3 separate regions of the Homo sapiens genome follow, and regions 2 and 3 are each linked to region 1. The links come from fine-mapping of genetic effects on gene expression. A gene starts in region 1. Each other region holds a variant in brackets. All regions are shown on one strand. Distances are between the middles of the regions. Region 1 holds the start of RGS7BP (regulator of G protein signaling 7 binding protein). Region 2 overlaps RGS7BP (regulator of G protein signaling 7 binding protein). Region 3 has its middle 17 kb from the start of ADAMTS6.

The links.
Region 2: its variant is fine-mapped to the expression of RGS7BP in unexposed skin (GTEx, PIP above 0.99). The same link has a PIP of 0.9 or more in minor salivary gland and sun-exposed skin.
Region 3: its variant is fine-mapped to the expression of RGS7BP in vagina (GTEx, PIP above 0.99).

Annotation. Positions count from the first base shown.
Region 1 is chr5:64,501,203-64,512,062 of GRCh38, forward strand. RGS7BP (regulator of G protein signaling 7 binding protein) reads left to right here and starts at 4,813. Exons shown (of 6, transcript NM_001029875.3): 1 at 4,813-5,587; 2 at 6,509-6,675. The coding sequence starts at 5,423.
Region 2 is chr5:64,528,348-64,539,207 of GRCh38, forward strand. All of the region lies in intron 2 of RGS7BP (regulator of G protein signaling 7 binding protein), which reads left to right. Among named protein-coding and RNA genes, the nearest start is that of RGS7BP, 28 kb to the left of the region's middle. The variant GGA/G (reference allele first, on the strand shown) is at 5,906.
Region 3 is chr5:65,493,743-65,504,602 of GRCh38, forward strand. It overlaps a transcript of CENPK not described here. Among named protein-coding and RNA genes, the nearest start is that of ADAMTS6, 17 kb to the left of the region's middle. The variant C/T (reference allele first, on the strand shown) is at 5,063.

The sequences.
Region 1 (10,860 bases):
GCTAAAGTTCTTTGGTCCAACTTAGATTTCATAACCATTATTAAACCAGTCATTGTGGCCACTGAGATACAGTATTTGTATTGGTCAGTCCTGAATCATATGCCCATGCACAGAGCCATGTGGGCAAAAAGTGAGAGAGGACTGATTTCTCATAGGAAATTTAAGGTGCTATCATCAGAAAAGGGAGAATAAAAATTGAGCAAGCAAAACACTAGATGCCCATTATGCACACAAGAAACACTCCAAGGTTGAAATTTACCGTGAATTTCATGAAGCCTAAACTTCAGGGAACCTCACTTGCATAAGCTCCTTCTAAGACAATGTATCTCATCTTGTATTTAAATTTTTGTGTTCTTTTTCTTTAAGAGGGGCTCCCAAATTGTATAAGCTTCAAGACCAACAAAACCTGGATCTGTCCCTAACAAGAATACCCAAAAATATTTGTGAAATTAATAAATAAATGTTCCCAACATATTGCACCCTCTTATGCTTTTAGCAGAAAGAAACCATCTGTTAGATAGTTTATTCACTAAGTTCTTCAGAATAACTTTATCTCTTATCTTTTGACACTAACAAAAAAATAACTTGATCATGCCCTTCAGATCTCCCTAGCTTCTGGAATTCAGAATCTTAATGTATTTTTCTCTGCCTCTATCAGAGACCCACTCATGTAAGGGCCCCCCCTTTTTTTCACTTCTCTGAACTTTATTCCCAGATGAAACCTGCCTCCTACTATCACCTCTCATGAGAGGCCAATCCATTATGAAGTGTTCATTTCTGGGTCCCACTACGGTTCCCTACAGAACCAATTTGAAGAAACTCAGCAATTGCTCATATTCATTCTAAACTGATGTTCTCTGATGTTTCTTAAAATTTCAAATCAAAATGAATTCTCAAAACTATCACAGAGAGAACACAAAATGTAAGGTATATCTTATATTGGAGTGAATCTAGGATGTGACTCTTGTCAAAGCCATATACCTATAGGTGACCAATGATCAGGCATGTGCCAAAATCGGGTCTGGGTAATCAAAATATGTGCCTGTTGTTGAGATTTCCAACTACACTTTACCCTTCTACTTGGCAGTCAGACAGCCTCAGGAATGTAAATTCATGCAGTTTTGAATGTGGGGGAAGGTTAGGAAACTAAGCCTGCCTGCTGCTATTCTGATTACAGCATTTGTCGCTGGCTGGGAGAGACAGCTCTGAGATTGATGCTATTTTTCTCCCTTCTCAGGAAAATGGCTTGGGCTGTGTATCAGGGAAGGCCAAGGGGCACCTACGAGTGAAATTTCCGCTTAATCCCCCAGCAGGTTCCCAAGTCAGTAGTCTTTCAGACGTGGCATTGCATTTGACCTATTCATTCCATCCCCCACCCCTGCCCCCCAGCTCCTGCAAGAAATATGGCATAGAAATAGGGCAGTGCAATTATATTGCCTTTTTTTCTTTTAATTTGTTGAAATTGTCTCTAGGCAGAAGAAGGGAGGTGGGGGTTAGAAACCAGATGGTTGTAACTGGAGTAGAAACCTACTACTGAGTAGGTTTAAGACGCTCAAATCTGGTAGAAGTGGCTATTTCCTCACAGGAAAAGGGGATGAATCAACAGAGCCATGGAAAAAGATTTCCAGCAGACTGATCTCCAGTGTCCTATCCTCTTCAACCCATGTGCACACACATGTAAAAGGTAGCCCCTTTTCCCTTAGTTCTCCAAAGCACCACCAACAATGGGTTATAGCAGACTTTTCCTGAAAGTTGGGTGGAGAGTGCAGGGGTAAGCTAGTGACAGTGAAAGAGGTTTATAACACAGGACTTAAACCATCTACAAATGAATATTATCGATCCTTCTTTAAAGCCCCTCAGTCTCTCTGTTATCTTCCTCTTCATCATCCCAAGCATCCTCACCCCTCACAAAACCCCAGGCACCTGATGTGTTTTTCTGCTTCTCTCTTTACACGCGTTAAGTAGAAAGAAAATTGGGGCTGGGCACAGAGCCTCATGCCTGCAATCCCAGCACTTTGGGAGGCTGAGGCAGGCAGATCACCTGAGGTCAGGAGTTTGAGACCAGCCTGGCCAACATTGTGAAACCTTGTCTCTACTAAAAATACAAAAGTTAGCCGGGTGTGGTGGCACGTGCCTGTGGTCCACTCAGCTCAGGTTGTAGGAAGGGGTTCCTACAACCTCCTTCTCAGATTTGGTAATTCACTAGAATGACACAGCACTCAGGAAAGAGCTTTTCTTACTATTACCAGTCTATTCTAAAGAATACAACTCAGGAGCGGCCAACTCAGGCATGTCTGTGGAACTACTCAGAAGTCTGCACTACAGCCTGGGAAACAGAGTGAGACTCCGTAGAATGAACGAATGAACAAAAGAATGAAAGAAAGAGAGAGAGAAGGAAGAGAGAGAGGAAGGAAGGAAGGAAAAAAGGAAGGAAGGAAGGAAGGAAGGAAGGAAGGAAGGAGGGAAGGAAGGAAGGAAAAAAAGGAGGGAGGGAGGAAGGGAGGGGAGGTAATTGAGATTGCAGGAAAGAGAAAGGGTCAGGGAGCTGACTAAGCACTAACCTGTTATCTTCTTATATTTGGGGAGATTCAACCAGCAGAAGAGCCCTTTCTCTCAGTCTCTGGGACATCTAAACACCTGGAGGATAGCAGCACACCAAGGTCTGGGCCTGAGAGCTGATGCCTCCTTTCTCTAGTCTTTGATAGGGAAAACTCACTCTCAAGCTTGTGTGAAGTTCTGGTCAGGCGCAGTGGCTCACACCTGTAATCCCAGCACTTTGGCAGGTGAAGGTGTGTGGATTACTTGAGCTCAGGAGTTCAAGACCAGCCTGGGCAACATGGCAAAACTCTGTCTTTACAAAATATTAGGTGGCATGTGCCTGTAGTCTCAACTACTTGGGAGGCTGAAGTGGGAGGATCACCTGAGCCCAGGAAGTTGAGGCTGAAGTGAGCTCTCATGGTGTCACTAAATTCCAATCTGGGTGACGGAGCAAGACCCTGACTCAGAAAAAAAAAAAATGTAGCCAAATATCCACTCAGTGATCCATCTGTTAGGTTTTTTTTCCTTCCCACCCAAATACATGATGTCTTTTCCAATAGCACTTCTCCAACTCTCTAACACCAATTAGGTGGCCTACAACTCATTTCTGGCACTAACTACCCAGAGTTAACGTCAGATTTACAGGTTTAAGGGCTCAGTCCCACAAGACTGCCCTCATCTCAGAGGCCAGTCACAAGTATGGGATCCACAGGTTACCAACTCTTCTCTCCATCTTGGCGACAAATTCAGGGGTTCCTATAACCACCTTCTCAGATTTGGTAATTCACTAGAATGACTCACAGCACTCAGGAAAGAGCTTTACTTACTATTAGCAGTCTATTCTAAAGGATACAACTGAGGAGCAGCCAACTGGAAGAGAAACATAGGGCAAGGTATGGGAAAAGGACATGGAACTTCCATGCTCTTTCCTGGTGTACCACCCTTCCAGCACCTAGATGTCTTCCACAACCCAGAAGCTCCCCACACTCTATTGTTGTTTAGGAGTTTTACAGAGGTTTCTTTATGTAGGCATGATTGATTAAATAATTGGCCATTGGTGAGGAACGCAGTCACTAGCTCCTCTCCTATCCCCTGAGATTGGGGGATGAGGCTGAAAGTTGCAAGCAACTAATCAAGGCTTGGTCTTTCTGGTGACAAGATGGCTTATCATAATAACTCAGGCAATTTCTAAGGGTTTTAGGAGTTCTGCCCTAGGGACTGGGGACAAAGACCAAATAACTCTCTTATTATAGTACCCCATTATATTTACTTGTCTTGTAGAAAAGGTTGTAAAGCCACCCTCCTTAGGATATTAACCTTCCTGGCTATTTCAGGCTTTCTCTTTCTATGTACTCTCCATATCCCTTTAACAGACTGACCAGGAACCTCTAATCTGTTCTTATTAGGATTACTAATACATAACTAGTTTTCCTATGGGAGACCCCTTTATCTCCCTCTCCAAACAAATCATTCAGGAGAACAAGCATCCTTAGAGCCTTAGAGTTGAATGCCACAACACTCTCTCTTCCTCCCAGAAGAACCTTAGGAAGATGTCAGTGGGAAGGGTGAACTTAAATGGCTGAGGGCCTCACCCCCACTCCTTTCACACAAGAATCATCCCCGATTTTCTGGGCCACCTCTGTTGGCCTCTGGGTTACTGATATCCCATAAGTGAGAAGAAGGTCATTTTGAGTGTCCAGGGAGATCTCTTGGCTCTTATTTGTTCAAGTCTCCGGAAGGGAACTCTAGGAGCTGAGTCCTGAGACCCTGCAATGCAAGACCAAGAGCTTTACTACTTGAAATGGGATGGGGATGAGGCCCAATCTGAGTGAATGCCTCTGTGCATTCTGCCTCACTGGCTCTCCTCTTTCCCCCTCCATGAACAAGGACAAAATAAAAACAAAACAACTCAGGGAAACAAAGCTCTCCTTTTAGGTTATCAAGAGGTCTTCCATTTGGAGCAAAACCTCACTCCCTCCTGTGGCCCCTGTCTCAGTCTCAGTTGGTGAGGGCCTCAAGCCCACACTGGCTTATTTGAAATCCATGTTTAGGTCCCAGCATGTGGCATGTGCTCCACTCTGATGACACTTTTCGTTTCTAATAATAGAGCAGATGAAGTAATATTGCAATTGATGTTCCCGGGGATTTGATTGGATAAGTGCATAAACTGTGGAGGGGGAAGGGGGTTGCATGGACAGATCACATTAGTATTCCCGTCCTATCAATGTGCGGGCCCGCGAACAACGTCAGCCGGACCGATTCTCTGCGTCTGCCAGTCCCGCCACAGATTCATCTGGGATCTTCAAACAGACAAGCCCTTAGAGACGAGGGATCAAGGCAGCCGATTAGAGCCAATTGCTTGCTTTGGGGACGGCCAGTCCTTCCAGGCCTGGCGACAGTGGAGGGAGGGGAAAGACGAACCGAGTGCCGCTGCGGGAAGACACTGAAGCAAGAGCGACACCCCTTTCCGCCCCCCACCTTGCAGCGCAGGCTTTGAAAGCTGCTCCCCCACCTGAATGGAAACTCGGAACCGCCGGGCGGCGCGTTCCTTCTCGCCCAGCCTTGCAATCCATGCCGAGAGGAAGGCAGTGCGAGCCCGCGCCAGCGCCCAGCTCCCGGGACAGGGTCGGCAATGCTGCTGAGCAGAACTTGATCGCGCTCCTTCCTCGCTGCTAGTGGAAGCGATGCTGCACGGCACAGCTAGCGCTTCCCCGGCTCTCCTTCAAGCTGAAGGTTACCGACCCGCGCAGCCAGCCCCAGCACTGTGAGCTGCGCGCCTCAGGTCCGGGCTCCGGCTGCTTGGCGGCGGCGCCCAGGGCAACAACCGGGCCGCCCGCGCCGGGGCGCACTGCACCAGCGGCTTCGGCTTGGTGGATGTGTATGCATGAGTTCTGCACCGAATGGGCGCAAAAAGCGCCCCAGCCGGTCCACCCGCTCCTCGATCTTCCAGATCAGCAAGCCCCCGCTGCAGAGCGGAGATTGGGAGCGCAGGGGCAGCGGCTCCGAGAGCGCCCACAAAACCCAACGAGCCCTGGACGACTGCAAGATGGTGGGTGAAAACTGCGCCTCTTTTTTTTTTTTTTTAATTGAGAGGGGGTGGGGGGAGTCATGTATGTTAATCATTTGCCTGAGTGCCAGCCACTCCCCCACCCTCAGCTCCTCAATGCCGATCACGTGGCACATGCACTATTTTTAAATCTGCAGTCCCCCAAATTCAGGGTGACACCCTGGTCGTAATAACCCTGCAGAAAGAAGTGTGACAGCAAGGGTCTTGGGGATCAGCGGCTGTAGGTTGTGCCTGTACCCCCTCGAAGAATGGTGGATGCGAAAGACACAGTGAACTGGCTCGCTCACGGAGGAGGGAGGGATGAGGAGGTGGGGATGCTGCTTTCTGGGGACAGAGTAGCAAACAAACCCAAATACAGCGCACGGGGCGCTGCGGAGGGGTCGAAGGTTCCAGCGCAGAGGCTGTAGCTGGTCTTCCCGTCAGGCCGTCAGGCCGAGAGGTTCAGTGGCCCAGCAAAAGGTGAATGGTTTGCCTATTACACCCTACCTGTCGCCTCCCCCGCCCCTCCCGCCGTGCAACTTAAAAGCCATGTCCTAGCAGTAGGAGAGGGGACCGTCTATGTAGGAGTCCCCAGCATCATTCTCTGTTGGCCTGGGAGTGGCATGGTAGCGCTCCAAATATGCTCTCTTGCTCTTCAGAAACTGAGTCTGAAAGGGTGAGGGGAAGTAGGTCTGGAAATAGAGCTTCCATGGCCAGGCTTGCCTATGGAAATAAATACTTGCCTTGGACAAAGAGACTTGCCATTTTGGTGCCTTCTGCTTTAAACAATTCCTAGGTTCCTTAGCTGGAGATCTGGGGAGCTGACTCAGGGGTCAGTGAAAGCCCCTGTTTATGTACTCCGAAACAGGAAACTTTCTGATGAGAAATGTTTGGTAAAAAAAAAAAAACTCACTTCTTTTCCAGCTTGTCCAAGAGTTCAACACACAAGTGGCCCTGTACCGAGAGCTGGTCATTTCTATTGGGGATGTCTCGGTCAGCTGCCCCTCACTCCGGGCGGAAATGCACAAGACAAGAACCAAAGGCTGTGAAATGGCCCGTCAGGCACACCAAAAATTGGCTGCCATCTCAGGGTAGGAGACTCGGCATTATTTGGTAATCCATATACATGATGCATGGATGCTGACAGAATTTTATGGTAGTCAAGTCCTCAGACATGATCTCCACATATTTGAGATTTTAACCTTAAGATCGAAATTCTCTAGAGAGCTATACACAAACTATAGGCCAAACCATAATTTGAAGGCTGTGTCATTCTTGCATATATGTATATATATTTAGAAGATTTGGATCAAATGATTTTTTAAAAACTTAATTTTCAATACTCTGGCCACATTCTGGAATTTGGAGCATAAGATTTGGGGTGGATGGCTGGACATCAAACTGAAGTTAAATCATCTTGCCTCAAAATTATTTTGTCATCTGCTGCTGAACAAAAGGCCTGTGCTGTAGAGAAAAACTCTTTCCCAAATCCCAGATTTACTAAACTATTTATACCATGAGATAAATTCCTATGATACCGCCTAAAATAAAATCCCTAAAATAAGGTCTTAGATATAAATTACTCTCTTCACTGTGGTGATAGGAAGGGGTAAGTTTTAGCATAAGAACAGTTTTTAAAGATTGGGGAAATTCACATATCTCAATAAACCTAACATGATTTTGTCCCCCAAATTTTTATTTATTTTCATCAGATTTATCGTTTTTCTAGCCTGTATTAGGAGATAATTCAGTATGTGAAAACTTCTCTCTTGGGACCCTACCTACACTTTCTTTCATCTCTTAATATTGGGGAAAAAGTTAGCCATGGATTTTGTTAACAGTTCCTATTTTCAAGATAAGTACTTAGAGCAAGGAAACACAGGAATCCTTATACAAATACATCAATACATTAATTTAAGTGCTTTGTTCAGTCTGGATATAGTATTTACCTGTTTATCTATGTGAGTATAGCTTTATCGCAGCAGAAGTTCAAATTAGACTCACCTGATAATGTTACAAGCTGATCACTTGTAGGAAGTATATCTAATTTACCTATTTGAAAGAATCACTGTTTGCCATCTTTAATTCCAATAATATGTATAGTGATTATAAAGTTTATAAAGATTGGAAAGCCATATACTGCCTCTGTTAATAATTACTTTACATTTGACCACAGGCATTTTATATCATGAAAAATGATATGCTGTACTCATCTCCTTGAAGAGAGGGATAAACAAAATATGTTATAACCATATTTTATTTAGTAAAAATATTGAGAAGCCTTATCCTTTTCTGTTTTAACTCTTATACTATTCTTAACAAGAAGTAAATCCGGGAAATGGAGGGGAATTAAGTGGTTCAGGAGTTTGGTGAAGAAATACAGCTGTGATAAATCTCAGACAAGGAGAGAGACAGAAAAAAAAAATCAGAAATGTGAAGGAGCACTGGTAAATTTAGAAGTACAGATAAACAGTAATTCAAAAGGAAAAGCAGATTTAGGACAGGAAATTTTCTCTCAAGGCTAAGGAGTAGCAACTCTGTAAACTTTGTGTCCTAGATTATAGGATGGGATTGCATTTAGGATCCCTCTGAGTTGGAACTCAAAATGAGAACATGTTCTAATCAGAGATGGTGGGCTGGAGGAATGAACAAGGAGTTCGATTCAGTCTATTTTGCGACACACACAAAATTCAGGGTCTTCTGAAGGTTCAGGAAAGAAAAGGTCTGAAACTATTGACTAAAAGTTGAGTTTGGAGGATTTCAGGTGGATTTTTTTTTTCTTTGAGAGGTATTATAGCTATGTTACCCCGGCTGGTCTTAAACTTCTGCACTCAAGTAATCCTCCCGCCTCAGGCTCCAGAGTAGCTGGGACTACAAGAATGCACCATGGTACCTGGCTTGAGGTGGATTTTATTTACTCTGGTGTTTTTAGCTCTTTGCTACTTGTTTGCATGTTATCTGTGTGTTGATGTTAATGGGGGCAGTTTTATAAGAATTAGTGGGAAAATAAGATGTTCTTAGAGCCTTGCCAAAGGAAAACCAACTCCATAAAATATTCTAGGATAGAACTTGACACATTTCCCCCCTTACAATAATAATTAAATGCAATTTAACATTCGTTATAAAAAATGACAGCAATATAATTGAAGGAAATCCCTTTAGTTCCTCACCATCTGGGCTCCGTTAATGAAGGATGTGATTCCCTTTGGCGGAATTCCGTTTCTGATATCATTTGTTATGTGGGTTCTTGTTTCAAGCTTGATGTGAAGGCTGGTAGGGAGGCTGTAGGAGTCACTTTAAAGTTTGAAGCAGGAGTGAGAAAAGCAAAGGTTTTTGGCGAAATTTAGAGAGAAGAACTGGATTTCTTGCGCGCCCACTATTTGTCATCACAACCCAGCTATTTCCTTTCAGCTGAGGGAGGGATTATTATTCTTATTCTACAAATAGGTCTAGAGAGATTGAGGAACTTGCCCAAAGTCACACAGCTAAGAAGTGACACAGCTTTGATTCAGCCCCATGTTTGCATGCTTCTGATTTTCATGCTTTTTCCTCTATATAATGCTGCCATTCAAAAAGGTGTTACGTATAAAGGATACATGATAAAATATAAACTAACCTTAAAAAGAGTATGCCAACTGAAAGAAGCCAGCCACAAAACATCACATGTCATATGATTCCATTCATGTGAAATGCCCAGGAAAAGCAAATCTATAGAGACAGAAAGTAGATTAGTGGTTACCTAGGACTGGAGGCGAGAGCAGGTAGAGACTACAGATGAGCTCGAGAAATCTTTTTGGGATGATGGAAATGTTCCAGAATTGGACTATGGTGATGGTTATACAATACTGTATATTTACTAAAAGTCATTGAATTGTAACTAATAATGAGCTAATTTTATGGCATATAAAGTATACCTCAATAATTGTTTTTTAGAAAGGTATTGTCATCATCACCGTGATTAACACTTGGTTTTTTGTCAACTTTATTATTTTCTACATATGTAGCTTTTAATGAAGGGGTATGAGCTATAGGGTGGAGGAAAAGTAATACTTGGCTCCCCATGCATTCCTCAAGACACCTGCCTCATGGCTATTGCTTAAGCACCAATTCTTTGCTCTGTGTAGGAATACAAGTGTGGGAAAGGCAGGACTTGAAGGAGTAAGTGAATTTATTCATTTTCTACCAATACAGACTCCCACTTCCTGGTCTACCAGCTGGCTTTGGGGCCACAGGAGGTAGACAGGATTGAAGGTGGACAGGGTAAAAAGAAGATGAGGCAAGATAGAGAGGAAGAGGAAAAACAAGGAGTTAGCATTAAACAAGCCACTAATGCTACATACCTTTCATCCCTGACCAACTGAAACCCTCAAGGAATGGTGGAGCTCACGGGAGAAGAAAACTCAGACTATGTTTTTTCTAACTGGCCCTGTTTAAGAAGGCCATCTCCACAAATACAATCAACACGCTTTCTCAAATTGTGTTTGGATCAGCAGAGTTCAGGCACAGCCTTTTCTTTCAAAGGCATCAGATATCTGCATTCTGGACAGACCCAGCCAGGTGAATACAAAGTATCCTCTGACTGTCTTGATTTACTAAAGTTATGTCTTTACAACTCTGACCCTGTCCCAGACATTAAAGCTAAGAGGGGCCTTAAAGATCACTTGCAAGAATGGGCCTCAAACTTTTTTAGCAGCAAATCCTCCCTTCAATCTAAATGTAGAAAGCCATATTTATAAAGACAGTCGCAGTGGCATAACTCTGCACTGCTTGGGGTGTGTGTGTATGTGTCCACGTGCCTATCAGGAGTAGGTCAGGTCCTGCCTTTTGGACTTCCTTCTCAAAGTGACTTCTGAGACACTTCATAGAATCCCTAGGGCTCCATGGCACTTTATATTTGAGGAGTCTAAGATTCAGAGGATTTAAGTGACTTTTGAGGCAACTTGACAAAGAATACGTGAAGATTTTGGAGTCAGGCAGACCTGGAATGAGTGTCATCTTTTATGACCTTGATGGAATGCTTAGCTCTCTAAGTCACAATTCCTTCATCTGTAAGGATGAAGTCCTTCATGCCCATTCATGGGGTAGTTGAGAGAGTTAACTGAGCTAGGTATGTGAAGCAGGGACCACATGTCCAGACTGTCAATGGCACTGCCAGTCAGAGGCTGCTCTAAGACTGGGACTTGGATCTCATGCTCCCTGGTCTTGTACCTGTTCCATCAGCCACACCTGAGAATGAGGAGAGATGAGCACAGCATACAAGGTAGGAGTGGCCCCAG
Region 2 (10,860 bases), 27 kb after region 1:
TTGGTGGTTATGAAGATAAAATAAGAGACATCAGTGAAAAAGATTAGGTCACATTTAAGCACACAATTGTTCAATAAATTTTCATTCACTCACACATGCCGTAACAGCTACTTAACAAACATGTGACTTCAGAGAATTATCCCCTGTGAGCCTGAGTTTCCACCCCTGAAAAAGGAAGGATAGGCCGGGTGCAGTGGCTCAGGCCTGTAATCCCAGCACTTTGGGAGGCCGAGGTGGGCAGATCACCTGAGGTCAGGTGTTCGAGACCAGCCTGGCCAACATGGTGAAACCCCGTCTTTACTAAAATACAAAAATTAGCTGGGTGTGGTGATGCGAGCCTGTAATCCCAGCTACTCAGGAGGCTGCGGCAGGAGAATCGCTTGAACCCGGGAGGCAGAAGTTGCAGTGAGCCAAGATTGCACCATTGCACTCCAGCCTGGGCGACAGAGCAAGACTCCATCTCAAAAAAAAAAAAAAAAAAAAAAAAAAAGTGGGAGGGAGGATAATAATGGCACCAATTTCACTGGGTTGCCATGAGAATTAAATGATGTGATATAGGTAAGGAACTAAGCAAAACATAGAACACATAAGAAGTATTCAATACAGGCCAGCTATTATTATTATTACAACGTATTCCAATATTCCTTAACCAAAAATACTTGCGGCATTGATAACACTTTTATTGTAATTCAGAAAAAGAGAATTATAAAAACTTATAGATTTTAGCTTTAACAATCTGGGATAGAATAAAAATAGTTTGGGAGGTTATATTTTGATTAGAAAAATGTACTTTTTTGCCATTTTAATACCAAAAAAAGAGAATTATTTCAAGTGTTTAAAAATAGTCCAAGGTCTGACACCAAAAATAGAATATTTCATTTCAGAAAGAATGCCTTAGAGAAATGACGAGCTGCTGATAAAGGAAATGACTTTGGGTTTAAAGCAAGTATTTTTCTGTTATAAAAGTGATTAGGCCTTTAGAAATGTTTTCAAAATGATATAGAATATTCACCTCATATAATGACTGTATCTTGGCTTTTTGTCAGGCTCAAGATCCAAGAGAACCAGGACTGGGTACAGGAATGGGAGAAAAGAAACTCTAAGATATTGTTGGTTTCAGATCACAGGGTTTACTGAAATAAAAAGGTTATGAGAACAATACAAACCAGTGGTTACCAAGCTTGTGATGCCCATTGGAATCGCCTGGGGAGCCTAAAAAAATGCCAATGTCTGGGTCCTACCCTCAGAGATTCTGATTTTCTTGGTCTGGGGCATGGCCTGGGTTCCAGAATTTTTAAAATACCTCCAGGTGTTTCTGATATGCAGACAAGTTTGAGAACCACTGGCATAGACAAGGGATCTATTTGAACAAGTATAGCCTCCAAGAAGGGCTGTCTCCCTTTCTCTTTCACCAAGACAAGTGACCAGATTCTGGATCCTTGCTGTTCTAGCTTCATGTCATCTCCCATTCTCTGTATCTCTGCTTCAGTTTTCACAACCTTCCTTTAGTTGTGTTCCTGCATCACATGGCCAGAAAACTTCCATTTATGGCTACTTAAGAACCTCCACGGGCTGGACTTTTATACCAATTCTATACTTCTATACTTCAGGACTTCTATACCATTTCCATACCAGGTGACATCAATAAACCAGGAAAATATGTTTCAACCACATTAATTTTTAGTAGAAGCCAAAGTGTTCAGATGGTATCTTTGAAGGATCACCAGGTCAGGAGCTGTGGTCTGAACTGCTCTGTGTGCATGCACCCGTCATTAGGAGAGTGAGATAGTCGGGTCAAATGTAAACTTGGCTTTCAAATTGAGAAAAAAAACTTATCTACTCATCTTTACAACATACTTTAACTGTATTGCTCACATTGGAAGTAATGACATAGGGGCCTTTTAAAAACTAGAATTTGAAGCCAGAAGTATTTCATCTCCCAGGTTTATCTGAAAAAGAAAGTAGGAAATATGTAATGAATGTAGATTGCATACAAAATGAGATTATATAGAAGAGATATTATTGGCCTAGAATGACAAAAATAGCTTCAAGATTTAAAAGTGCTTTCGTGATAAAAATAATCTCACATTGTCCTTGGAACATACCTGTGTGATATTTTTATTCTTGTGTAATAGACGAGGAAATGAAGGCTCACAAAGATTAAGTGTCTTGCTCAAGGTCACAAAGGCAATAAATGCTAGTGTCAGTGCTTGAACTTATATCCCCCTGATTCAAAGGCCACTATACTTTCCACTGTGCCATGACTGGAAGTACAAATCATGTCTAAATGTGGTTCAAGTGTATTAGGTTATTTATAATTTTTGCTTTTCCCTTCATTTTACTTATAACTGCCAAGAATAGACTTAGCTCTGTTATTAATCAGTAATTCAGGAGATGTGTCAGTAGGGTTTTTTCTTTTTTTTTTGCAAGCAAGAGCAGGTGGCTCCAGATATATTTATTAAGTAGAATAATTTATTGGAATCATTATTCCAAATAATGCAAAGGGAACCATTATAATCACATGGGGAAACAAGAGAAAAGGGGTTGGAAAATGGACACAAACCAAGGAGAATGCACAGTCTACATAGCTGAGACAGGCTGGCCAGGATGTTGCCCTAGCCAACACCACTGATGGATGCTGCTGCCCTAAATGAATCCTAATTATCCCTTCCTCTTGGGTCAAACACTCCAGCTTCAAAGCTCTGGTACGAAAACCCAGTTGGTCATGTGCAGCTTCCTGGTTGCAGGGAGTAGGAGAGGAAATACTCTCCCCATGGAAAGACACTTCTTCTATAGTGGACATTGTACACCCTCAATACCATCAATAATGGGGAGTCCCTCAATAGGAAGAAGGATTGAATGTAAGACAACTAAAAAAATGGCTCCTGCAGAACAGTGTTTCAAAACTATACGTCCTTCTATTTTTCTGCAGTATTAGAAAATCTTGTAAGAGAGGCTTCCAAGGAAATTACAAGCTATTTTAAAAAGAATACTTTATTCAATCTTAATTTTAAAAATCTGTGGTAAATAACAGAGTCATTGGAGACTCAATCAATCTGCACACTGAGAAAAAAAAATACAAAACTTGCACCTGGGGAGTTTGTTGTTCGACATCTTCCAAATTAGGAGGTCTGTGGGATTACACTCATTCATTTTCTAATCTAGCTGCAGTCCGTGAAGAAGTCACCCCATGCAATAAGGTCACAGCCATTCTAGGGCACAGTATGGAAATATGCTCCTTATTCGTTTGTTCATTCATTCATTCACTCATTCATTGGTTCAGCCTACATTTATTATGCACTTTTCTGTGTCCTAGGCACTGAGGTTTCCAGCATCTGCTTCTGGGAAAATGAAGATAAAAATTCACAGATCCTGAAAAAAATCTTGTTTGTGCACATGTATGGTAGGCTTGTTCTCACATGATTTTGAGCGTATGTTGCTATGCAAGAATTAGAGAGAATTTTTCAAACAACATAGGGTATTTAGGTAATTTAGAGAACTCCTTTATTAATAACATTGGAGTAGCATATTTACTAATATGTTTAAACAATGTTAAAATTTTTCATCATCTTGGAAATTCCCCTCCTGCTCTATCCTTTAGTTTCCTACCTGCTAGTTTTTTTTTCCCCCTCTCTCTTTTGCTATGTGCATACAAGCACAAGTAAAGAATAAAAATTGCTCATTGCTTATCGGGAAGTGCTATTTTTAGACAGAATCTTAGGTCTTGAAAGATTTCGTTTCATAAGTCTTTTTGGCATGCTTACTGTCTTTCAGAAAATGAAAAAGAAGGTGCTCACCAAAGACAGATTTATACTTAAAGTTGGACTAATTTGGATGATAAAAACTGAACTGGAGCCGTATATGGGAAGAGCTAAACAATGACTTGATGTTATCATTGCTTAAATCTTTTTCTGAATAGTGCAAGCACCACCACAATTTGTTGTAATATCCTTTTTTTTTTTTTCCTGGAGCTGTACCTGGGTTGTATCAGCCCAGTGTCTGTTTTCATAAACCCAAACAGAAGAGCCCCGTAGAACAATGAGGCTTAATCTGCAAAGTGTAGAGAGGCAGAATAGGCTTTAGAAAGAGCATTTATTCTTAGGAGAAATTGTGTAAATACCGTTTCAAGTGTCAAAATAATAACCTTTTGTTTCTGGAAGTTGAATGTAGGAGCACCTATGTTTGCTTTTTTAGGTATTTGGAAAGCCATTTCCTTTTAAAAACAATAAGTAAAAAGAATGATGATCTAGTTTTCTACTTCCTGGTGAAAGTAAAAGCATCAGCTGCTAAAAACCTCTATAAATAATGAAACAAAAGTTTCTCTAAATTCTTCAGTTCCTGGAAACTACCCTTACATTTAGTACCCAAGTAAAATGACTTGAGCCCCCACCTCTCATATTATTTGTGGAGTCTGTTGCCCCCACACACCCCCAACCCCCTTTTCAGGCCATTCTTCTCTAGTGTATTTGGGTAGCGGAGGGCCTGTCCCACATTCACTGCTGAGTCAGCCCATGCTGCAGCCTGAATCCCTAGCATAATCACACTACCCCTTCAGTATTGTTTGCAGCTCTGTGCCTCTGGCCCACTTACCTCACAGCCTCATCAATATACACATACTGATTGGAATCTGGACTGCCACTCTTGTGCCTTCATTTCCGAGGGCATTGCTCACACCAGGCTGTTGTTACCAGTCCATCTCCCTTTCTGCCAAACAGCTTCTGGATGCCACCCCTGAGAACTCTTCCCTCTTGCTATGGCCCAGGTGATGACCATACCAGCTTCTCAGTTGGACCACCTAGGTAGTCCCTTCATTTCTTCCCTCTTGAGTGGACCTTCATCTTCCACCTGCATTCAGAAATTCTCTTCTCTTTGCTCCTGAAACATCTAGAGCTGAGAGAGACTGATGTGGTTGGTGATACTCAAACTCAGCCAGAATGAGTTAGGCCCTGTCCCTGTCTATACTAATGAATAAGAAGCTTTGAAGACTCTAATGCTAGATCTTCAGGTAAATGGCTCTATTTCCCAGACTACATGAGCTTTGGAAAGCATATTTCATGAGTTCCATAAATATCTCCCAGAACACGAGTTCTTAAGTTTTTCTGCATACTAAAATCACCTGTAAATCTTTAAAACTCCTAATGCTCAGGCCACGACCCACATCAATTGGGACCACCTGGGGGGTGGGATCGAAGCCCTGCCCCTGAGGTGATCCCAATGGACAAAAAAAGTTATGAACCCCTGCCCTAGAAAGTGGCAGGATGAGGAATTAAACATAAAGATCATCACCTCATATTTTTCTTCCATAAATAAAGTATGTACAAGAGACCCAGATTTTAACAACAATTTCACATACATTCAAAGCTTTATGCCTCTTTGTATTTTGATACAGTGAAGTAAAACTCCGTTAGAAGTTTAAACGTTATGCCAACCTTCTCCCTCCCCACCTCATGTCTATTTCTAAGCTACAACTATTTATTCTACAATTATTCCTTCAACAAAGATGTATTGAGTACCTACTATGTACCAGGCACTGGGGATACCCCAGGAAATAAAGCAGACATGACTTACACTTGTGAAATTTATTTCTGCCAGAGGGGACATATGATAAATAAGAAAGCAAATAAATAAACAAGATTATTACAAAAGTGGGATGTGTATAAGGACAGTAATAGAAAAAGGATAATATGAGAGCAAGTGTGCTGCATCTGTGGGTGGAGGAAAAGAGCAGCTGATTCAGGTACCCAGGAAAGTCCTTTTTGGGAAGATGACATTTGGGGTGAGATCTGAATGGTAAAGGAGCCAGCCATGCGAAGATCTGGGGCAGAGCATGCCAGGCAGAAGGAGGAGTGAATGCAAAGACCCTGAGGCAGGAACGAACTTGGCTAGTTCCAGAGCCTGACAGACT[GGA/G]GTGTGGTGAGAGGCAGGAAAGCAGGACAAGACAAGGTCAGGAAGGAGTTAGCAACCAGCCTGTCAGGGCCTCGCTAGGTCACAAGAAAGAGTGGATTTGATTTAAAATGCAGTGAAAAGCCACTGGAGGATGAGATTTATGTTTTTAAGATGTGTAAGAAAAGACTGTACAGGGCAATAGAGGAATTCGTCCCTTGGGTAATAGTTGCTTGTTTTAGAGGTAAGCAACTGTTTAGAGGTAAGACCAGCAGAATTTGCAGAAGGGTTGCAGCTTGGAGGGGCAGTGATGAGGATGAGGGAAAGGGGAGAATCAGAAACAAGTCGGTCTGAGTAACTGATTTGATGGTGGTGCTGTGCCATGAAACAGGGAGGTCTAGGTGAGGTACCCTTTGGCAGATGAGAGAGCAAAAAATCAAAAGCTGTGTTTGAACATAATAACTTGGTGATTCCTTTCAGCATCCATTAATACCCATTAAAAGATAATGTCCATTAGGACAAATCTGGAGCTCAAAAGAAAGGTCAGGGCTATAAATTTAAATATGGAAGGCACTGGCATAGAGGTGGTATTTAAAACTTTCGGACTGGATGAGTTCATGTAGGGAGATGATGTAGATAGAAAACAAAGGAGAGCTAGGGGCTGGGCACTGAGGTGCTCTCTTAAAACCTAGGAAGAAAAGGAAGATCCAGCAAAGGCGACTGAGTAGGGGCCAGGGATTTAGGGTGATAGGGCCCTGGGTGTCAAGAGAAAAACTGTCTCAGATGGAAGGTGAGACAGTTTTGCCAATGCTGCTGAAATGTCCAGTAAGATAAGGACAGAGGGACCAGTGAATTTTGTGAGAGAGGTTCTTGGTGACCTTGACATGAGCAGCCAGAGGAGCACTGGGAACAGAAGTCTGGATTGGAGGGCTGAAGAGAAAGTGAGATGTGAGGACGTGGAGGCAGTGGCTATTGGCCCATCTACCAAGAGCTTCTGCTCTTCATGGAAACATGTACTTATTCCCTATCCTGATCTAGACCTCTGAATATACAGATCTATTAAAGTATGCACATTTTTCTTCTTAAAGAACAAGTGTATACACTAGATGCCTGATCTCAGCTTAAATATACTCAGTGCATCCCGTGTTTGACCTAATGGCTACAAGAAACTTGAAACATGAATGAATGCTAAGGAGAGGATTAGCTCTGCTCTCACCCCATGCAGGAATAACTTCTGGAAAGATGCTCCCTCCCAGCCCCACCTCTTCAGCTAACCATCATAAATAATCAAAGAGAAAAATATATGATCCCCTTAAAATGCCTATAAAGAAAGAAAGAAAGGTTGATTATTAAATGACAGGAAAGGTTATCCAACATAGAGAGCTTCAATTTTAAGTAGCACAAAGTAACACTTTCTCACATTCCTATTCAACTTAAAACCTGAATAAATTCAAATAGCTTTTAGCTGAACTAGATTTTCACTCTCCTTCCATAGCAGACAGGAAGACATACATCCTCCTTTATGGAGATTAAATGGTCCTGCCAATATCTTTTAGATTATGACCTCAAGAAGCAACGGAATATTTGGCCAGTTATTGTCAAAGGAGCAGCTTAATATCAGCTTTGAAAAAGGTAAAAATCTACTTTATTGGAAGAAAGTCTTGGGAATCAAAATGGGTAACACAGAAAGTCTTGAAAAGACTTAGTTGTCTGGGGTGTCTATGTAGACAAGCCCTTGGGGGTACAATTGTGATGGAAATAAATTACTCTACAGGTGCCAATTTAAGTCTGTATTTTGCACAGAAGGATAATTTGTCACTCTCAAAGTCAAAATACAGTAGTCTTGCCCTGTGTAGCAGGACTTTCAGAACTGAAGTCCAGAAGTCTCTTTGGGTAGGTAATATCCTCATTAAACATCAAGGAACAGACAAAAAGTAGCTCATGATATTGGGGCAGGGCTGAGTTTGAAGACAGAAGCCCATAGCCGTACCAGTAAAGGGAAGATATTTCTGATTTCTGTAGACAAACTTCAACTGGGAGCAAGAGCTTGTGAGTACAGTGAGGAAGTGGAGAGCATATGGGAAATTCTGAGAGGGACTATGTGAGAAATCCAATGAGCATCAGATATCTCAGGTCAGGGAGCATAAAGAAAAAGAAATTATGTTAACTAGGGTGATTATGTTCCTTATGGTGTTTATTGTCGCACGCGTTCACAATAAAAAATCCAAATACCTTTAGTAACAGTAATAGTTGTTCTTATAGGATGAAAATCTTCATCCTATTTACATGTATCCCTGCAATTCAGTGTGCAAATCACAGACATTACTTTCAAAACAAAATGTATCAATAACATAGAATACCTACATTTCAGGTGCTAAAGGTATTCTTTTAACTGACCTTCACTTACGTGAGTCACTGGATTAAGGGAAACTTTCCATTCCCTCTGTGAAACCTATTGACTAATGCCTTGTTTAGCAAGCTACTTCTAGTACCAGATATGGACTTCTGACCCACCCATTCAGTTGTATGCTTACCAAGAGTCAGCTATGCTGGTTTCCAAACCTGTTTTTGCCACATTTTGATTAGGTGATTTGATGAAATAGGAGGGAAAAAAGAGCTGTTAACATAAAAATTAATTTGATGAGCTAGTAAGAAAAAAAAATGCTATCAAATTTGGTGTGGCCAAGGTAACTATAAAAGACTGTGACAAATAATCATAAAATTCCAGAATGATTCTGCACTAGGTGTGCATTGCAAGTATCTTCAAGTTTCTTCTAGACTTTAAAGAAATTAAAACTGGAAATTGGAGATGATGTTTTATGTGTCGCTTCTCAGCCTTTTGGCTAAGATCAAGTGGAGATGATGTATAATGAGTATGGTTCTTGCCAGATGAAGAACTCCAACCAGTGGATTCATACTCAAAGAGAAGGTCTTAGTCCAGGGGTGTCCAATCTTTTGGCTTCCCTGGGCCATGTTGAAAGAATTCTCTTGGGCCACACACAAAATATTAACACTAATGATAGCTGATGAGCTAAAAATAAAAATCGCAAAAATAAATCTCATAATGTTTTAAGAAAGTTTACAAATTTGTGTTGGGCCACATTCAAAGCCTTCCTGGGTCACTTGTAGCCCTTGTCCGCGGGTTACAAGCTTGGTTTAGGCTATCACCAGAAGACTGGTAGGTCAATGTATAATTATGTGTCTCAATTTAAAATAAGTTTAAGATATATAGTTAGCGTTGAATTTTTAACCACCCAATTACCTGTCTTGGTAAACTGGGTAGGAGAGTTTTTACTGTACCTGCTAGGGATGTTCACTTTGGGCTCTCTAAGCTTTACCTCTCCCCAGAAACTTGGCTAAAATCATGGTATTCAAGAGAAAGAGCCTAGGAATGTGAGTTTCTCTAAGTTCTATTCCTGGATCAAGACAGAGCCCCAGAAAGCTACATCATGGACCATTTTGCTTTAGATTATGATAGAAATTCCTTCACAGAGACATGATTTTAGTGTTAGACTCTTGACTTTCATTGATGATCCAGGGAAGAGTCTGTCATATGAAGAATATCTCTGCCTGCTCTGCTATGCTGCTAAAAGCATTCCATTATGCTATTCAAAGCCTGATAAATGAAGATCCATATGACAAACTTCTCTTAGTGCTAAAAATCTGCAGGCAGCCACATGGGAACACTGGGAAGAGTGGAAAAGACAGGAAAGAAAGAGGAAAGAACTCATAACCCTAGACAGAACTAATGTTTCATCCAAGTAAATAGAAAGCTCTTTTTTTAACCTCTTCTTTAACTTGTTTTCTTATGGATTTATGAATTTTAAAGTTGATAAACCTAAGAAGTATGCATTATTTTACCTACTTAGTGGAAACCATATACATAGCTAATTTTAATTAATATTATTATCAAAGATATGAATGCTTTTATAAAACAATCTTTAACTTTTTTCTGTCTCCCTAATTTTAAAAATTGGCTTAACTTACACACAATAAAATTCATTTTTTGTTGTACATTTCTATGAGTTTTGACAAATGTGTAGAGTTGTATAACCACTACCAACATCAAGATACAGAAGAGTTCCATCACCCCCAAAACATTCTCTCATGTTGCCACTTCATAGTCAATCCCTTCCCCTTTTCATAGCCCCGGCAAACTCTGATCTGTATTTTGTTCCTACTATTTTGTCTTTGTTTTGCCTTTGTTTTGTCTTTGTCAAAATATCATCTAAGCTAAATCAGAAGCATGTAGCCATTTTTTTTCCTTTTCTTTTCTTTTTTTTTTTCCTTTTCTTTTCTTTTTTTTTTTCCTTTTCTTTTTTTTTTTTTTTTTTTTTTTTTTTTGAGACAGACTCCTGCTCTGTCACCCAGGCTGGAGTGCAGTGGCACGATCTCAGCTCACTGCAACTTCTGCCCCCTGGGTTCAAGAGATTCTCCTACCTCAGCCTCCTGCGTAGCCGGGATTACAGGCACCCGCACCATGCCCAGCTAATTTTTGCATTGTTAGCAGAGATGAGGTTTCGCCAGGTTGGCCAGGCTGGTCTTGAACTCCTGACCTCAAGTGATCCACCCACCTTTGTTGGCCTCCCAAAGTGCTGGAATTACAGGCAACATGTAGCCTTTGAGTCTAGCTTCTTCCACTAGCCTAATTCATTTGAGATTCCACTCGATTCTACTTGAGATTCATCCACATTGTTGAATGCACATTCTTTTTTATTTGTTCTGTAGCATTCTGTTGTGCAGCTGTGCCCCAGTTTGTTTATCTATTCACTCTCAGTTGTTTCCAGTTTTAATGACATCTTCAGTACTACATATTGTTAGCTTTTGTTTGCTTTGCCCATTTTAAAAGTGTAGAGAGATATCTTGTGTTTTTAATTTGCGTTCCCCTAATGACTCGAGATGTGAAGAATCTGCTTATGTGCTATTTAGCATTCATCACCTTCTTAGTGAAGTGTCTGTTTAAGTCTTTGGCTTATT
Region 3 (10,860 bases), 990 kb after region 1:
CAAATACATACCAGAAAAAAACCTTCCTGAATTTAAGAATGACTTAAATTAGAAGATTAAAAGTTTCATTCTTTTCCTGGTAAAATCAATGTAAAGAAACCAAAACCTAGACATATCCTGGTAAAATGTTTAAATGTTTAAAAGAAAAAAAAAGCTAAAAAATTGTTTGTTGAAAAAAAAAGAGAGAGACATGAGACCATCATTCAAGAGTAAAAAGTAGACTTTTCATAAAACAAAAAGTCATACGCTTTTTACCACAGAACAGAAAGACATTCTATGATGTGTAAAGGCTTAACATCCTTCCTTCCTTCATTCATTCATTTATTATTTTATGCAGGCAATATTTATTGAATACTGACTATAAGATATGTATTTGAAAGTAATTATTGAAGGCATATATCAGCAGTCTAAGTGATATAAAAAATAACAACTCAAAAATGGGAGAAATTGACATATAAAAGGACCAGCAATAAGAAAAAAAATCAATTTAACAGAGTTAAGATTAAATCACAGTTACAAAAATAATTACAAAAGGCTGGGTGCAGTGGCTCACGCCTGTAATCCCAGCACTTTGGAAGGCTGAGGTGGGTGAATCACTTGAGGCCAGGAATTCGAGACCAGCCTGGCCAACATGGTGAAACTCCATCTCTACTAAAATTGTAAAATTAGCTTGGCATGGTGGCAGACGTCTGTAATCCTAGCTACCTCAGGAGGCTGAGGCAGGAGAATCACTTGAACTTGGGAGGTGGAGGTTACAATGAGCCAAGATCATGCCACTGGCACTCCAGCCTGGGAGACAGAGTGAGACTTTGTCTCAAAAAAAAAAAAAAAACACAAACACACACACACACACACACACACAAAAACAATAATTACAAAAGTATATGCAAAATAAAATTGGAAGGTTAAAAATTAAAGCTTGGGCAATGATTTCTTAGGGAAATACTGCCACCCAAACCAGGGGTGACAATATTAATTTCAAATAAAGTAGAGTCAAAATAAAAACTACTACAAAGGACCAGGAGAATCATAGTCCTTTACAATGATCAACAATCCCGAACTGTTATGCACTAAATAACACAGCATCAAAATACTTAAAATAGAAACTCTTACAAACTCCAAGGAGAAATTGATAGACATGCAACCATAGTAAGCTTCTTGATAAATCAGGTACACTTTTAAAATAATGTGATAAATTTCAGGATTAAATAACTGCATTACAAATGAAGCCATTAAAAAATCTAGGGTAGCCTGGTTCAGTAGTGTGTCACTGTAGTCCTAACTTCTTGGGAGGCCAAGGCAGGAGGATCGCTTGTGGCCAGGAGTTTGAGGCTGTAGTGTGCTATGATCATGCCTGTGAATAGCCACTGCACTCCCAGCCTAAGCAACATAATGAGGCCCTGTCTGTAAAAACATGGGGGTGGGGGGACAGAAGAAAATATAGGTGAAGAATTAACTATCTGGGAATAGGTAGACCTAAAACAATGGAATAGACAACAAAGGGAAAGAATGACAGATCCACCTATATTGTTTGAATATTAGTAAATAAAAAGAATAAACAAAATTAAAAGGTTAACGGCATACTGGAAAAAACTACAACAAATAGGATAGACAAAAACTAAATATATAAAGTTTCCTTATAAAAAAATATCAAAAGCTCTAGCTCCATGCTAGTGCTGTCCAGTTGAACTTTCCACTATGATGGAAACGTTCTGAATCTGCACTGTCCAATATGGTAGCCACTACTCACAAGAGCACTTGAAATGTAGCTAGTGCCAATGTTGAAATGATAATATTTGGGGTGTATGTAGTTAAATAAATTTTATTAAGATTTTTTATTACTAAAATAATTTTATCATTAAAATTTATTTCACCTGTTTCTTTTTACTTGTTTAATGAGGCCACAAGAAAATTTATTATAAAATTACATACACAGTTTGCATTAGGTGTCTATTCAGCACTGTTCTAGAATAACGATCAAGGAAACAAAAAATTCACAAAAGAAGAAATACAAACAGCCAGTAATCTATGAAAAAAAGTTCCATCTCACTTATAATCCAATAAATATAAATTAAAACAAGATTTTTATAATCAAATAGACAAAATTTTAAAAAATACTCATTGTTGGCAAGGGTTCCATTAAATGGGCACTCTCATACACTGCTGGTGGTGGTATAAATTGCTTCAACCTTTCTGGAAAGGCATTTGGCAATATTAATCAAGAGCCTTAGTGGCCAGGCAAGGCGGCTCATGCCTGTAATTCCAGCACTCTGGGAGGCCAAGGTGAGTGGATTGCTTGAGCCCAGAAGTTTTAGACCAGTCTGGGCAACATGGCAAAACCCCGTCTCTACAAAAAACACAAAAAATTAACCAGGCATGGTGGGGCACACCTGTAGTCCCAGCTACTTAGGAGGTTAAGGTGGGAGGATCACTTGAGCCAGGGAGGTTGAGGTTGCAGTGAGCCATGATTATACCACTGCATTCCAGCCTGGGCTATAGAGACCTTGTCTCAAACAAAACAAAACAAAACAAAACACTTATACTCTTTGACCTAGTGTCTCTATTTCTAGGAATTTACATAAAGACATTGATCACGGTGCTATTTCTAAGAGTGAAAGACTGGGAACAACCTCAATAGCCAATAATAGAAAAATTGTTAAAATAAATGATGGTACTCCTACTTTGTTAATAATCCAGTAGCCTTAAAAATGTTTTTTCTAATATTACCTAGTTATGAGAAAAATACAACAAAGAGTAAAAGAAGCAGAGCTCATTATATAGTATAATCATAAAGAACATTATAAGCATATACATAAAATGCATACGTAAACACTTTACTTCATAAAATTAGGATCATAATTTCATATTTTCTAGCACATGTCATACAGTTAGGATCAAGGTTAAGTAATAAAAAAAGGTTACAAGTGGTTATCTCTGGGTGGTGGGGTTTTTAATTTTCATCTTTATACTTTGCTGTTTGTTTTTTTTCCAAAGTATTTATGAGTATATTTTTACTATAAAAATAAAAAGGCTGGGTGCGATGGCTCACGTCTGTAATCCCAGCACTTTGGGACGCCGAGGTAGGTAGATCACAAGGTCAGGAGTTCAAGACCAGCCTGGCCAAGATGGTGAAACCCCATCTCTACTAAAAAAAATACAAAAAAATTAGCCAGGCGTGGTGGCGGGTGCCTGTAATCCCAGGTACTCGGGAGGCTGAGGCAGAGAATTGATTGAACCCATGAGGCGGAGCATTGCAGTGAGCTAAGATCACGCCACTGCACTCCAGCCTGGGCGACAAGAGTGAGACTCCGTCTCCAAAAAATAAAAATAAAATAAAAATAGTGGCCAAGTGCAGTGGCTGACGCCTGTAATTCCAGCACTTTGGGAGGCTGAGGCGGGCGGACTACCTGAGGTCAGGAGTTCAAGACCAGCCTGGCAAACATGGTGAAACCCCATTTCTACTAAAAATACAAAAATTAGCTGGGCATGGTGGCACATGCTTGTAATCCCAGCTACTCGGGTGGCTAAGGCAGGAGAATCGCTTGAACCCGGGAGATGGAGGTTGCAGTGAGCCAAGATTGCCCCCACTGCACTCCAGCCTAAGCGACAAAGTGGGACTCCCTTTCAAAAAAAAAAGAAAAAAATTAGTTCCTCACGGGCTGTTAGAAGCAGTCACCCTTAGTGATAAGAAACTACAATATGGACAATCACAACATGGCAGTTGACCTCATCAAAGTAAGCAAAGGAGAAAGAGCAACAGAATGACAGCAAGATAGGAGTCACAGTCTTTTGTAACCTAGTCTCAGAAGTGATGTCCCTTTGTTCTATTGATTCATTACAAACAAGTCATAAGTTCCCCGGTCCACACCTAATGGGAAGGGGATAACACAAAGCCAGGGATACCAGGAGGTGAAAATTATTGAACAGGGTTTTAGAAGTCTGTCTACTGTAAATATAAATGAACGAAATGTTCCAATAAAAAGGCAGGACAGTGGCTCACGCCTGTAATTCCAGCACTTTTTGAGGGTGAGGTGGGAGGCTCACTTAAGCCCAGGAGTTCAAGGCTGCAATGAGCTATGATTGTGCCATTGCACTGCAGCCTGGGCAACTGAGCAAGACCCTATTTCAAACAAACAAATAAATAAATAAATAAAATATACACATATATATTCAAAAGTCTATTTAAGTTAGAATAAAAACAATATAGTGTGGAGTTTGTAACATCTGTCAAAATAAAAGATCTGACAATAACAAAAATGCCAAGAAGGAAGAAATTGAATTTCAGCATTATAAATTTCTTATACTGTATGTATAATTGGTATGAATTGTTTTTCTAGTATTTTCTGTTGGATTTTGCATCTACGTTCATAAGACTAGGCTACAATTTCCTTACATTATCATTTGCTACCCTAGCCTAGAAATAATTTACTTTTAAAATATCTTTAATAATTTCTGAAACATTTTTATATATTATATATCTCTCTAATGTTATGTAAATATATATCAATATACACATATAGATATATTCCCAACCTTCAAGGAATACATCTAGGGATTGAGGGCATATCTCTTTATATATGTTTTTTGTACGTGATTGCTTTATTTATTACATTTACATAACACTTATGTAACTTACCATAGTCTACTGGTATTGACATTTTATCAGTTTGAATGAAGTAAAATCCTACCTTCCTTTAAACCTCTTTACCTTTCCCCAGTTACAATCGTCTTAAATATTTCCTCTACATCACTGAGAATCAAATCATATATTTTGTTTCAATCATGGACACATAACTTAGAAAATTCAAGAAGAAAACTATTGTATTTGGTCATATATCTTCCTTCTCTTTCTTTTTTCTTTCTTTTCTTTTTTTCTTTCTTTTTCTTTTTTCTTTTTTTTTTTTTAGAGACAGGGTCTGATTCTGTCTCTTTTTTGAGACAGGGTCTCACTCCACCCAGGGTGGAGTGCAGTGGCATTGATCATGGCTCACAATAACCTCAAATTCCTGGGTCAGGCAATCTTGCTGCCTTAGGCTCCTTAGTAACTAGGACTACAGGCACA[C/T]GACACCACGCCTGGCTAATTTATTTTTTGTAGAGACAGAGTCTCGCCATGTTGCCCAGACTGGTCTTGAGAACAGGCTTCAACCTCCCTAAGTGTTGGGATTACGGGTGTGAGTCAACATACCCGGTCTTGTATTTGGTCACATTTTTGCTCTTTCCTGTTGTCCTTCTTTCCTAATATTCCAAGATTCCTTCTTTGATGATTTCCTTTATGTTTCAGGACTTTCTTTTTTTAAATAGAGAATGAGGCCTCCCTTTATTGCCCAGGGTTATCTTGAACTCCAGGCTTCAAGCTGTCCACCTGGCCTCAGCTTGGCAGGCCTCAGTCTCCCAAAGTGTTGGGATTACAGTCGTGAGCCACTGCACCCAGCCAGGAACTTTCTTTAGCCTTCTTTTAGGGTAGGTCTGCTAGCAACAAACTCTCTTAGTTTTCCTTCATCTAGTATGTATTTATTTCCCCCTCATTCCTAAGGGGTAATTTTACCAGATATATGATATCTGACAGGGCTGACAGTTCGTTGAGCAATTGAAAAACATTAAGCCACTTCCTTCTGGCCTCCTCGGTGCTTGATGAAAATCTACTGTCCTCCCAATTGTTTTTCCCCATAGGTAAGGTATCCTTTCTCTCTCAATGCTTTTAAGACTTTTTGCCTTCTCTTTTCAGTTTACTTACAATGTGTCTTGGTGTAGACTTCTTTAGGTTTATCCTTTCCTGAGCTGGGGTTCTCTCAGCTTCTTGAATCTGTAGGTTTATGCTTTTTACCAAATTTGGGAAATATTCAGCCACTATTTTAAAACCCACCCACTTTCTCCTCTTTCTGGGACTTTGATGACAAAAATATTAGATCTTTTTTTTTTTTTTAATTTTTTTTTTTTTATTATACTCTAAGTTTTAGGGTACATGTGCACATTGTGCAGGTTAGTTACATATGTATACATGTGCCATGCTGGTGCGCTGCACCCACTAACGTGTCATCTAGCATTAGGTATATCTCCCAATGCTATCCCTCCCCCCTCCCCCGACCCCACCACAGTCCCCAGAGTGTGATATTCCCCTTCCTGTGTCCATGTGATCTCATTGTTCAATTCCCACCTATGAGTGAGAATATGCGGTGTTTGGTTTTTTGTTCTTGCGATAGTTTACTGAGAATGGTGGTTTCCAGTTTCATCCATGTCCCTACAAAGGACATGAACTCATCATTTTTTATGGCTGCATAGTATTCCATGGTGTATATGTGCCACATTTTCTTAATCCAGTCTATCATTGTTGGACATTTGGGTTGGTTCCAAGTCTTTGCTATTGTGAATAGTGCCGCAATAAACATACATGTGCATGTGTCTTTATAGCAGCATGATTTATAGTCCTTTGGGTATATACCCAGTAATGGGATGGCTGGGTCAAATGGTATTTCTAGTTCTAGATCCCTGAGGAATCGCCACACTGACTTCCACAATGGTTGAACTAGTTTACAGTCCCACCAACAGTGTAAAAGTGTTCCTATTTCTCCACATCCTCTCCAGCCCCTGTTGTTTCCTGACTTTTTAATGATTGCCATTCTAACTGGTGTGAGATGATATCTCATAGTGGTTTTGATTTGCATTTCTCTGATGGCCAGTGATGATGAGCATTTCTTCATGTGTTTTTTGGCTGCATAAATGTCTTCTTTTGAGAAGTGTCTGTTCATGTCCTTCGCCCACTTTTTGATGGGGTTGTTTGTTTTTTTCTTGTAAATTTGTTTGAGTTCATTGTAGATTCTGGATATAGTGTCACAGGTCTTTGAGGCTCTGTTCATTTGATTTCATCATATTTTGTCTCTGTTAATCAGATTAAGGAATATCTATTGTTCTTTGTTTTTTCGGTTTTTTGTTTGTTTGTTTGAGATGGAATCCCACTCTGTCTCCAGGCTAGAGAGCAGTGGCGCAATCTTGGCTCGCTGCAACTTCTGCCTCCTGGGTTCAAGCAATTCTCCTGCCTCAGCCTCCCCAGTAGCTGGGACTACAGGTACACACCACCATGCCCAGCTAATTTTTGTATTTTTTGTATTTTCAGTAGAGACGGGGTTACACCATGTTGGCCAGGATGTTCTCGATCTCTTGACCTCATGATCCACCCACCTCAGCCTCCCAAAGTGCTGGGATTACAGGCGTGAACCATGGTGCCTGGCCATATCTATTGTTCTAGCTGCAACTTTGCTGATTCTTTCCTCTTGTCCTCTTCATGTTGCTATTGAGCCCATCACTGAATCTTGAATCTGGTTATTGTGCTTCTCATTTTAAACTTTTCAATATGATTCTTCTTTATATCTTCTATTTCTTTGCTGAGACTTTCTATTTTCATTTGTTTCAGGCATGTTTGCAATTGCTAAGTTTGTTTTTTTTTTTTTTTTTTTTTTTGAGACAGAGTCTCGCTCTGTCATCCAAGCTGGAGTGCAATGATGCAATCTCGCTCACTGCCACATCCACCTCCCGTGTTCCAGTGATTCTCCTACCTCTGCCTCCCTAGTAGCTGGGATTACAGGCACCCACCACCACGCCCAGCTAGTTTTTGTATTTTTAATAGAGATGGGGTTTCACCATGTTGGCCAGGCTGGTCCCGAACTCCTGACCTCATATGATCCACCTACCTTGGCCTCCCAAGATGCTGGGATTATAGGCAGGAGCCACTGCTCCTGGCCCTCTGTTTTATCTTGATGTTGCTGTATGTTGTCTTTTTTCATTAAAGTTCAGATTTTCCTAGTTCTTCGGGCATGTATTGTACCCTGGACATTTTGGTTATTATAACACTCTAGATCTTACTCAAATCTTGTTTTAGCAGGCCACCTTTGACACAATTCTGGTGGAGGGGAAATGGGGCACAGTCTCATCACTACCAGGTAGTGGTGAAAGTCCACGTTCTCTGCTCAGGCTTTTTGACACCCAGGGTAGGGAAACAGAAGTGCTTTGTGACATCTGGGCAGCTGTGGAAATTCAGCCTCTTCAAAGGCCTCCATTGACATCAGTCTGGCTAGGAAAGGAAGGAGCACCTTGTTACTGATTGCCAGGTGGCCTCCACTGATTCTATAGTCAAGAGTAGGAAGCCTCCTTACCTCTGGATGGTGGTGAAAGTTCTGACATGGCTTCCTCTAATGAACAGGGTTGCCTCTTTACTACTGGGTGGGTATGTAAGTTCAGAACCACCACATGGCCTTCTTACTGCTGGCAGGGAGGAAAGTCCTGACTCCCAACTCAGTCTTCTCTGATCACCCCAGGGGCAGGACACCATGTTATAGCTCAACAAGGGTGGAAGCTGAGGTCCACTACTTTTGGCCTTTTTGGACAGGGGTGGTGGTAGGGTGGTATTTTTTCCATGGTGTTTAGCTGCAGTAGGGTGGTTATAGTTGAAAAGTTTTCTGTCTTACTGTGTTGCCTCTTTCCTCATCCTTTTGATAGAGCAAAGTTTTGGGAAACTTTTATCTTCCATTGGTGTTTTCAAGGTTATGATCTTCTCTAGCATCCAGTCTGGTACGTATAAGGCAAAAAGAAAACTGCTGTGTCCCTCTTTGTGTCCCAAAGTCCCTAGGCAGTCTGCTGCCTTCGCTCCACTTTTCAGATATTTCCTAACATGTATATTACATATAATGTGCAAAGTTTTAAGCTACAATTAACAGGAGGAATAGAGAGGAGTGTGTCTACTCCATCTTAGTCTGAAACTAGAAGTCCTCTCTTTCCTTTAAAACATTTTCAAAATATTTATTCTCTAATATGAAGAGATATTTAAAACATTTTCAGGATATTTATTCTCTAACATGAAGAGTCTTTTTTTGTTTGTTTGGTTTGTTTTTTTAAGAAATAGGGTCTCACTCTGTCACCCAGGCTAGAGGCTAGAGTGCAGTGGTGAGATCACTGCAGCCTCAAACTATTGGGCTCTAACAATCCTCCCACATCACTGGGATTACAGGCGTCACCTACTGTGCCTGGGTTCTTAAGTCTTCTAACCAATATAAATTTTTAAATTTTATTTATTTATTTATTTATTATTTTTTGAGACAGTCTTGCTCTGTCACCCAGGCTGGAGTGCAGTGGTGCAAGCTCGGCTCACGGCAACCTCCACCTCCCAGGTTCAAGTGATTCTCCTGATTCAGCCTCCCGAGTAGCTGGAACTACAGGCACCATGCCTGGCTAATTTTTGTATTTTTAGTAGAGACAGGGTTTCACCACATTGGCCAGGTTGGTCTCAAACTCCTGACCTCAATTGATCCATCTGTCTCAGCCTCCCAAAGTGCTGGGATTACAGGTGTGAGCCACCGTGCCTGCCCACCAATGTAATATTTTTTTTTTTTTTTTTTGAGACAGAGTCTCACTCTGTCTCCTAGGCTGGATGCAGTGTCTCGATCTCAGCTCACTGCAAAATCTGCCTCCTGGGTTTAAGCGATTCTGCCTCAGCCTCCCGAGTAGCTGGGATTACAGGCACACACCACCATGCCCAGCTAATTTTTGTATTTTTAGTAGAGACGGGGTTTTGCCATGTTGGCCAGGCAAGTCTCGAAATCCTGACCTCAAGTGATCCGCCTGCCTCGGCCTCCCAGAGTGCTGTTCTGCAGGCGTGAGCCATTATGTCCGGCCTATAATTTTAAATTAGGATGAATGTCTTCTAATTGTTGATTTTAGGAGAGCTCTTTATGTATTTGAGATGTGAATTCTTTGTTGGATAGTTACCATACTTTCTCCCACTCTGTGGGTTGCCTTCTAACTCTGTCTAAAGATGTCTTCTTTTTCTACAGACAGAAATTTATAATTTAAATTGGCACATTTAAAATTTTTAAAAATATTTAGAACTTTTTCTATTATCTTTAAGATACTTTTTGTCTACTTGCTAAACTTTTTTTTTTTTTTGAGACAGAGTCTCACTCTGTCGCCCAGGCTGGAGTGCAGTGGCTTGATCTCAGCTCACTGTAACCTCTGCCTCCTGGGTTCAAGCAATTCTCTGCCTCAGCCTCCAGAGTAGCTGGGACTACAAGCACGTGCCACCACGCCTGGCTAATTTTTGTATTTTTTAGTAGAGATGGGGTTTCACCATATTGGTCAGACTGGTCTAGAACTCCTGACCTCGTGATCCGCCCACCTTGGCCTCCCAAAGTGCTGGGATTACAGGCGTGAGTCACCGTGCCCGGCCTGCTAAAAAAATTTTTTTTTTTAACAGAAAAGCCAAAAACATTGGCTTCTTTGTAATATGCAACTGTCCTGAAGCAAACACAACCCTTTGCTTGCGATCATTATACTAAGTATGAATATCATGTTCCACAGTCAAAGAACAACCAGAAAACACTTTGACCCAAATATAAGCTAAAAATAAGGGAAATCTTGTCTTATATATTTTTTTAAAAAAAACCTGGCCAGGCGCAGTGGCTCATGCCTGTAATCTCAGCACTTTGGGAGGCCAAGGTGGGGTAGATTACCTGAGGTGAGGAGTTCGAGACCAGCCTGGCTAACATGGTGAAACCCCATCTCTACTAAAAATACAAAATTAGCCGGACTTGGTGGCACATGCCTGTAATCCCAGATACTCCGGAGGCCTAGGTGGGAGAATCGCTTGAAACTGGGAGATGGGAGGTTGCAGTGGGCCAAGATCGTGCCATTGCCCTCCAGCCTGGGAGACAAGAGCAAAATTCCGTATCAAAAAAAAAAAAAAAAAAAACCCACGAGTATTTCTCTCGTAAGTTAACTTTCTACCAGATGTTTATTACTTACTTTTGCAATACTAATGTCTGAAGATATGCACTTTTGTGCATATGATATCAATGTGAAAAAATTGCTGTTTTT